2 linked regions of the Homo sapiens genome follow. The protein of the gene in region 2 interacts with the protein of the main gene of each other region in a pairwise test. Each region holds a gene or a part of one and is shown on either strand. Other genes may lie near its edges.

Evidence for each region.
Region 1: the proteins of DLC1 (region 2) and TNS1 interact in a two-hybrid assay, tested with the Homo sapiens proteins (one study listed by IntAct).

The regions. Positions count from the first base shown.
Region 1 is NC_000002.12:218,000,879-218,004,788, forward strand, and holds the start of TNS1 (tensin-1), read right to left. Parts: upstream 2,118-3,910; 5' UTR 1,995-2,117; coding exon 1,962-1,994; intron 1-1,961.
Region 2 is NC_000008.11:13,088,130-13,092,039, reverse strand, and holds part of DLC1 (rho GTPase-activating protein 7), read left to right. Parts: intron 1-607; coding exon 608-722; intron 723-1,569; coding exon 1,570-1,788; intron 1,789-3,335; coding exon 3,336-3,553; intron 3,554-3,910. UniProt on the Homo sapiens protein: Functions as a GTPase-activating protein for the small GTPases RHOA, RHOB, RHOC and CDC42, terminating their downstream signaling.

The sequences.
Region 1 (3,910 bases), on a different chromosome or scaffold from region 2:
CAGTGGCTCACACCTATAATCCCAGCACTTTGGGAGGCTGAGACGGGAGGATCACTTGAGGTCAGGAGTTCGAGGCCAGCCTGGCCAACACGATGAAACCCCATCTCTACTAAAAATATAAAAAATTAGCTGGACATGTTGGCACGCACTTGTAGTCCCAGCTACTCGGGAGGCTGAGGCAGGAGAATTGCTTGGACCCAGGAGGTAGAGGTTATAGTGAGCCAAGATCATGCCATTGCACTCCAGCCTGGGTGACAGAGTGAGACTCCATCTCAATTAAAAAAAAAATGAATAAATAAAAATAAAGACACTCAAGGAAGCAGCACTCACAGCTGCCTTGGTCCCCAGACTCTTCCCCTTACTCTCAGGGAGGGTATAACACCCATAGGGCACTCTACCTGCCAGGCACTGCCCTGGGGAATTGGATACAAAATTTCATCCCTACCTCTCTGTACCCTGTTTCTCTGCAATCCTCATTTCACCAACGGGAAAGCAGAGGCTCACCAGGATGAGGCACTTTTCCCAGTATCAGTCAGCTGAAGGGATCTATAGAGCCCTCTCTCCAGTCACAGCAGCTCGTCACCCCTGGAGGTCTACCTGCCATCCTTCTTGTGTCACCCCTGGACGTCTACCTGCCATCCTTCTTGCTGCAGAGCTCCCTCCTGCCTACCTCTGTCCTCAGCACAGAGACGAACCTGGCCAAGGCTCCCATTTCCCAGATGTCAACACCAGCCCAGTAAACCACAAATGCATCCTGTGTGCAGGCCTCCCCAGTCACTCTCAATCTATTAATCCAATCCATCCCAGCACCCCAGCCCAACATGCCACCCAAACCGCCTCATTCCAGGCCCCCTCCCCCACCCTTTCTTTCTTTGCCCAGAGGACACCTGGCTGCCCGAGTTTGTGTTCCCACAACTGCCCCCAGCATGGGCTTGCCTGGGCCAAGAGGGCCCTCCCGAGGACTGGCCAGAACAAGGAAAGGGACAGGAAAGGCCACATCTGGATCACAGCCCTGAAGCCCCCTCCCCCAAACCAGCCATCACTCTCTCAGAGCCCAACAGTAACCTCAGCCAGGGACGACTTCCTCACCCTCCTGACCCCATGCATGCCTTTGCCTGGCCAAGACAGCCCCACAGGAGCCCCTCTGAGGAAGGGGTCCTCTCCTCCTCTGACCCCCAGCCCTTCTGCAGCAGGCAGCCCTCTCCCATCCCCCTTTACCCAGGAGCCTCAGCCCAGGTCTGGCCTTAAGACTTTTAACCTTCACCACGTGGCCCCCAGGCCTCTCTGCTGGCCCCCCTGGCATCCCCATCCTGAAACCCACCTCCCTGAACCTGGAGCCAAGAGAGAAAGGGGGAAGAGCGGGCCATGGCTCCCTCCTCCAGGATGGAGAGGTCTTGGTAGCAGGGGAGGGCTGTGGAGGAAGGGATGGCAGTGGGTGGAAGCTGAAACTGGGTGTAGAAGGAATAAAAGGGATGGACTCTGAGAATTCTCCCACAGCCCAGCTCTTCCAGACTTAATATTTTGGACTACTATTCTTTGCTCCCCAGCCCCACCACTGCCTCCTCCTCAAGATCTTGGGCTCAGCAACTGAGGGGGGGCGGTGAAGAATTTTCACCCCATTGTAGGATGCAAGTCGGGAGGAAAGGCTCTAAAGAGAAGCAAACTTCTCTGTGGCCTCCTTCCACTTACAGCTCTGGGACTCCATTGGGGGGTGGGGGGGTGGGGCAGGGGATGTACTGACCCGGGACCCTGGGCCTGGGCCCTGTTGGTGGGGAAAGTCTTCCGGCTGAGGGTTGCTCAAGTCAGTCTGTCCTTCTGTAGGTCAGAGACAGAAAGGCCCCTCCTTCAAGACTGACACCCCCCGACCCCGGGCTCTCAGCAAAAGGATAAGGTGGCAGGGGCCGGTGGGGGGCGGGGGGTTTGAGGAAGAGTAACGTCGCAGCTAAAGCAGCCAGACCTACCCAGAGCATGCAGGACAGACAGATCCACGTCATCTTTGCTGGGTCCCGTCACTGAGGCACGCCCAGGGCCTGTGAAGAGCCCCTGAAGCTAGAGTCCCCGCGGCGCTGGCAGAAGGGCTCTCTGAGTCCGCGGCTGCTCCGGCTCCGCCAGCATCTGCTGGGCCTCTCGCCCTGCTGCCTCCAGCTCACCCTCCCTCCTCCTCCTCCTCCCCCCACTCCACCCCTCGTCCCAGCCTCCTCTCTCCTCCCTCCTCCCAGGCTCCACCGGTGGCCTTGAGGGTCAGGAACCCTGCTTTGCAGGGGGTGTAAAGGGGACAGGGAAAAGGGAAAGCTACCAGAGGCAGGGCCCCCCCAGGCCGTGCCCCCCACCCCCGGACACACAACCCCTGTGTGCCACCAAGGCTCCTCAGTCTTCTGATCTGGTGCTGGTAGGCCTGGAGTCCTCCCTCCTCACTGCAGACCCCCGCCCCTGGCAAACCAGCCTGGGGGCCTTCACTCCTGGAACCCTCCAGACCACTGATGGATGAACAGACAGCCCCAGGCCCACACAATCAGCACACTCAGGGTGCCTTGGCCCCTCCCCTTCTCTGAGTACCCGTGCCTGCCTTCCTGGCCTCCTCGGAACACACATGCATTTGCACACACAGACTGGGACAGACTCTGGTGCCCACGCGCCAAGCTCAGAGCCCAGGACAGGCCTTAACACAGAAGAAATAGGGCCCGAGACTGGGGAAGAATGGCCCTGCCCCCAGGCTGTGGGTTTCATTCCAATTTTTTTCCTATTTCTTTTTTTTTCCCCCTTCTTTCTTTCTTTCCTGCAAACATCTGTCCCAGCCTTTCCTGCCCTTCTGAAAGGGAGCCCCGCTCCAGGCTCCCGCGAGAGTGTGTTTTTCTTGACTGTACCCGGGGCCAACATTTGGTTTGCATTTCCCCACTTCCTCCCCCTCCTCCCCTCTCCCCCTCCCTGGGCCCAGTTCTCCCCTCCCACCATTCCACAGGCCTATTTCTTCCCCTCAGTGTCCCCTGCCCACCAGCCCTCCCCTCCCCTCGCCCCCACCTCTGCCCAGGGACAATTGTTGGGGGTCTAGAGGGTGGAAAGGAGGCTGGGTCAAAACCCAAAAGTATTCCCACGGAGCACTAAGGGGGAATCCAGCAAAGTCTGCCCCAGGCCTTCATTGTCTGGAACCACCACGTTCCCCTCCAAAAAAAACCCTTCCTCTTTGAGCTCTGGCCTTGGCTGGACCAACTGAGGGTGGGTGGGGGCCAGTGAATCACCCGCTCTGTTCTTTGGAGCTGTCCAGGAGAAGGAGGGAGGGCTCAGCCCCACACCCTCCTGTGGACACACACACACACAAGGACACAGTCCAACTCACGTCAACACATAAGAGCCCTCCCAGAGTAGGCACTTGGAGACCTCGTTCCTAGACTGAGTCACTTAGCAAGAAAAGTTCTCTTGCCTGGCCTCCTATGCACACTGTGCTATACATGCCCTGGGGCCACATGCACGAAGGGTTACAGATCCCCTGCCTCCCCCCCCCACTCACCCAAGGCCATGCCATGCCGCTGTCTGTCAGCACCACATACCGTGCAACTACCAGCCTCCTCTTTCACAGGGATCTGCCCAGCCACTTGTGCCAACTCCCAGCCCAGGGACCACCCAAGACATCTACCTGGGAAACCCCAGAATGAAGGGGAAACACTGACTCTTCATCTGAAAAAAAGACTGCAGTATTCAGATACACAGGTTGTCCACAGCACAAGGGACTAACCATCTATTGTTTGGTGGTTCTGAGAAGTCAGGGGAGGACACTGAAGTGAAGTGTCAATTTCCAGCCCTTCCTAAAGCAGGTACCTGAGTGAAGAGTCTTTGTTCCGGTAGAGGAGTCAGGGTCCTCTCTCCATACTTCTCCAAGTCCTCCAGAGCTCTGGGGCTGGGAAAGATCCTGCCT
Region 2 (3,910 bases):
CTCCTGACCTTATGATCCACCCGGCTTAGCCTCCCAAAGTGCTGGGATTACAGGCGTGAGCCACTGCGCCCGGCCACATTTAAATAGTTCTTAAAGTTGACTGGGGCATTCCAACTGCAATGGGATACAGAGCTAGAGATGAGTAGAGGAGAGAGATCAAATAAGATGAAGACAAAAGGTCAAGGAAACAATGGACTTAGCCCTCACCTGTGGGAGGGGGCCTGTGTATTCAGGCAGATAAAGATGATGACACCCTTTACTCCAACTCCCTGGGACTCCTTTCCCACACTCCTCAGAAGTTGCTCCCCCACCATGCAAACACAGCCCCTACAAGCTGCCCTGTTCCCAGTAGGAACCTATTTAATTAAATGGTTTGAATCACCTGGATTTCATCAAAAGCATATCTCTTTAATGTTTTTTTGTGTGTTGTTGACAAAACTCTGAGATACTCTGGTGACCAAAGTAAAAACACTCTTAATCCACTTAACAATAAACAGATTCCAGTGAAAATTTTTTTTTCTCTCTTCTTTGGGTTTCCTTGAATAATACCTTGAAGAAAAATATATAAATATTTGAACTGTTCCCCTCCTGTATTTCTTCTACCTAGGGTAATGCAAAGAAAACAAAGTTTGGGCAAACCAGATCAGAAAGATTTGAATGAAAACCTAGCTGCCACTCAAGGGCTGGCCCATATGATCGCCGAGTGCAAGAAGCTTTTCCAGGTAAGGAATTGAGAAGTTTGGCTCCTTTATTAAGGATAATGTGAATAGGTACAAAATCTTAGGCTTGACCCTTGTTCATGTCTTACCTGAAGACCTTTTCCACAGCTGGAGACGGTATAAATAGCCTGAGAATGTCTTATTTACATATATTATAATGTATCAGCTAGAGTTAATCATGTTTAATGAAATTGTCCCTTTACTTGGAAAAGCAGCCGGGCGCAGTGGCTCACGCCTGTAATTCTAACACTTTGGGAGGCTGAGGTGGGTGGATCACTTGAGCTCCGGAGTTCAAGACCAACCCGGGCAACATGGTGAGACCTCATCTCTACAAAAAAAAATTTAAAAATTAGCCGGGTGTGGTGGTGCACACCTGTAGTCTCAACTACTTGGGAGGCTGAGGTGGGAGGATCACCTGAGCCCAGGGATGTGGAGGTTGCAATGAACCAATATTTTGCCACTGCACTCCACTAGGTAACAGAATGAAACTCTCTCTCAAAAAAAAAAAAAAGAAAGAAAGAAAGAAAAAGCAACAAATTATCTGGAATTAAACTGCTGTATCCACTTCCGTATCTGAGAAACCTGCTTTGACCAATGTAATTCACTCCCCCTACTCTAACTTTCCAAAGACCTTACATGGAAATAAGATTTCAGATACATTTATGGAGGTGATCTGTTCATATCCTCGTGATAACACGTGCGGTCAGCATGATAGCCCACCTCCGGCGGGAAGATGCCTGCACTGCTTTAAGGACCAGGCCATTGTTCCTACCCAGTCTTTTCCACTGATGGGCATTGAGATTGAGTACAGGTGGACTCACCTCCTTTCTGTCTGTCATGTTCCGCACAGGTTCCCGAGGAAATGAGCCGATGTCGTAATTCCTATACCGAACAAGAGCTGAAGCCCCTCACTCTGGAAGCACTCGGGCACCTGGGTAATGATGACTCAGCTGACTACCAACACTTCCTCCAGGACTGTGTGGATGGCCTGTTTAAAGAAGTCAAAGAGAAGTTTAAAGGCTGGGTCAGCTACTCCACTTCGGAGCAGGCTGAGCTGTCCTATAAGAAGGTAAGGCTTCACCCTGTTGTCGGCTAGTTGAGTCCAGGAGTCGAAGCTTGGGTCCATCAGAGATAACACGCTTTTGCCAACTAATCTGTCTGGGGATCTGTAGCCCACAACCTCCCTTGTAGAGCTGGGCACCGGGGTGAGTAAGATCCCCGTGGTGAGAGTGGAAACCGGGCAAAGCAAGAGTAATTTTCTTCCTGTGTAACACTTGGGAGAGGATTTCAACTATTTCTAATGAACTCCTTTGGCTCTACAGAATCACACTAGACTTCCCTAGAATGTTTTGCTAATGGCATTGAGATGCGGAACATCCTATGACACGCTTCGATTTTTCCATAATTTGGTCAGAATCCCTTTGCACTCTTCTCTGTTCTTAGTTACTGTTCTCTTGGCCCTTTAATGAGCGGGGATCCCTTAGGGGGAAATTAACTCCAGTTAGGACTGGTAAACCTCTTGAGGGCAGAGGCATCTTGTAAGGCTCAGCAGGATAGGTCCATCGGAGGTATATGTTGATGCCGCCTCTACCATCTTGAAAATAAACAAACAGTGGGAGTAGGCTGGGTGGCCTTGCCGGCTTTGGAAATGAGTGCAAATGTCTGATGTTTTTGTTTTTATTTATTTATATTTTTTGAGATGGAGTCTTGCTCTGTCACCCAGGCTGGAGTGCAGTGGCATGATCTCGGCTCACTGCAACCTCTGCCTCCCGGTTTCAAGCTATTCTCTTGCCTCAGCCTCCCGAGTAGCTGGCGCTACAGGTGCCCACCACCACGCCATGCTAATTTTTGTATTTTTAGTAGAGACGGGGTTTCACCATATTGGCCAGGCTGGTCTCGAACTCCTGACCTTGTGACTGCCCACCTTGGCCTCCCAAAGTGCTGGGATTATAGGCGTGAGCCACCATGCCCTGCCAGTGACTGATATTTCTTTATTGCATGCACTCTGATATAGGTCCCAGAAAAAAAAAAACAAATGTCATCATTTTTTTCTTTTTTCTTTTGAGATGGAGTTTCATTCTCATCACCCAGGCTGGAGTGCAGTGGTGTGATCTCAGCTCACTGCAAAGTGCCTCCTAGGTTCAAGTGATTCTCCTTCCTCAGCCTCCTGAGTAGCTGGACTTACAGGTGCCTGCCACCACGCCTGGCTAATTTCCATATTTTTAGTAGAGACAGGGTTTCACCATGTTGGCCAGGCTGGTCTTGAACTCCTGACCTCAGATGATCCACCCGCCTCGGCTTCCCAAAGTGCTGGGATTACAGGAATGAGCCACTGCACCCGGCTCAAATGTCATCATTTTGACTCGAGTTGACAACAGCTTTTTTTCACTTTCTGGCTTGCTCTTAAATATGCTTGGGGACAGCAGCCTATTTAAGTCATAGATTTATTAGCCCCCAATATTTCTTTATATACTGATTATATAGTATTATTTATATCATTTAATCAATTAACGTTGATTATATGTAACTAAAATTGTTAGTCTAACTAACAATTCGACTTCAAAAACTAGGTGTGTATGGATTGCCTTGGCACTGAAAAATACATCCTCTTTCCAGGTGAGCGAAGGACCCCCTCTGAGGCTTTGGAGGTCAGTCATTGAAGTCCCTGCTGTGCCAGAGGAAATCTTAAAGCGCCTACTTAAAGAACAGCACCTCTGGGATGTAGACCTGTTGGATTCAAAAGTGATCGAAATTCTGGACAGCCAAACTGAAATTTACCAGTATGTCCAAAACAGTATGGCACCTCATCCTGCTCGAGACTACGTTGTTTTAAGGTGAGCGCTTCCCAGTTGTTTTTTTGTGACAAGGATGACTCCATATATGAACCAAGCCTATATGTCACTGATCTTACAAGATGGTATAATTATTTAAAGTAGAGGCCGGGCATATGGTGGCTCACACCTGTAATCCCAGCACTCTGGGAGGCCAAGGTGGGAGGATCACTTGAGGCCAGCAGTTCAAGACCAGCCTGGGTAATATAGCAAGACCCTATCTCTACAAAAAAATTTTAAAAATCAGCTAGATGTTGTGGTGCATGCCTGTAGTCCTAGCTACTCGGGAGGCCGAGGCAGGAGGATCCCTTGAGCCAGGAGTTTGAGGCCGCAGTGAGCTGTGAGCATGCCACTGTACCG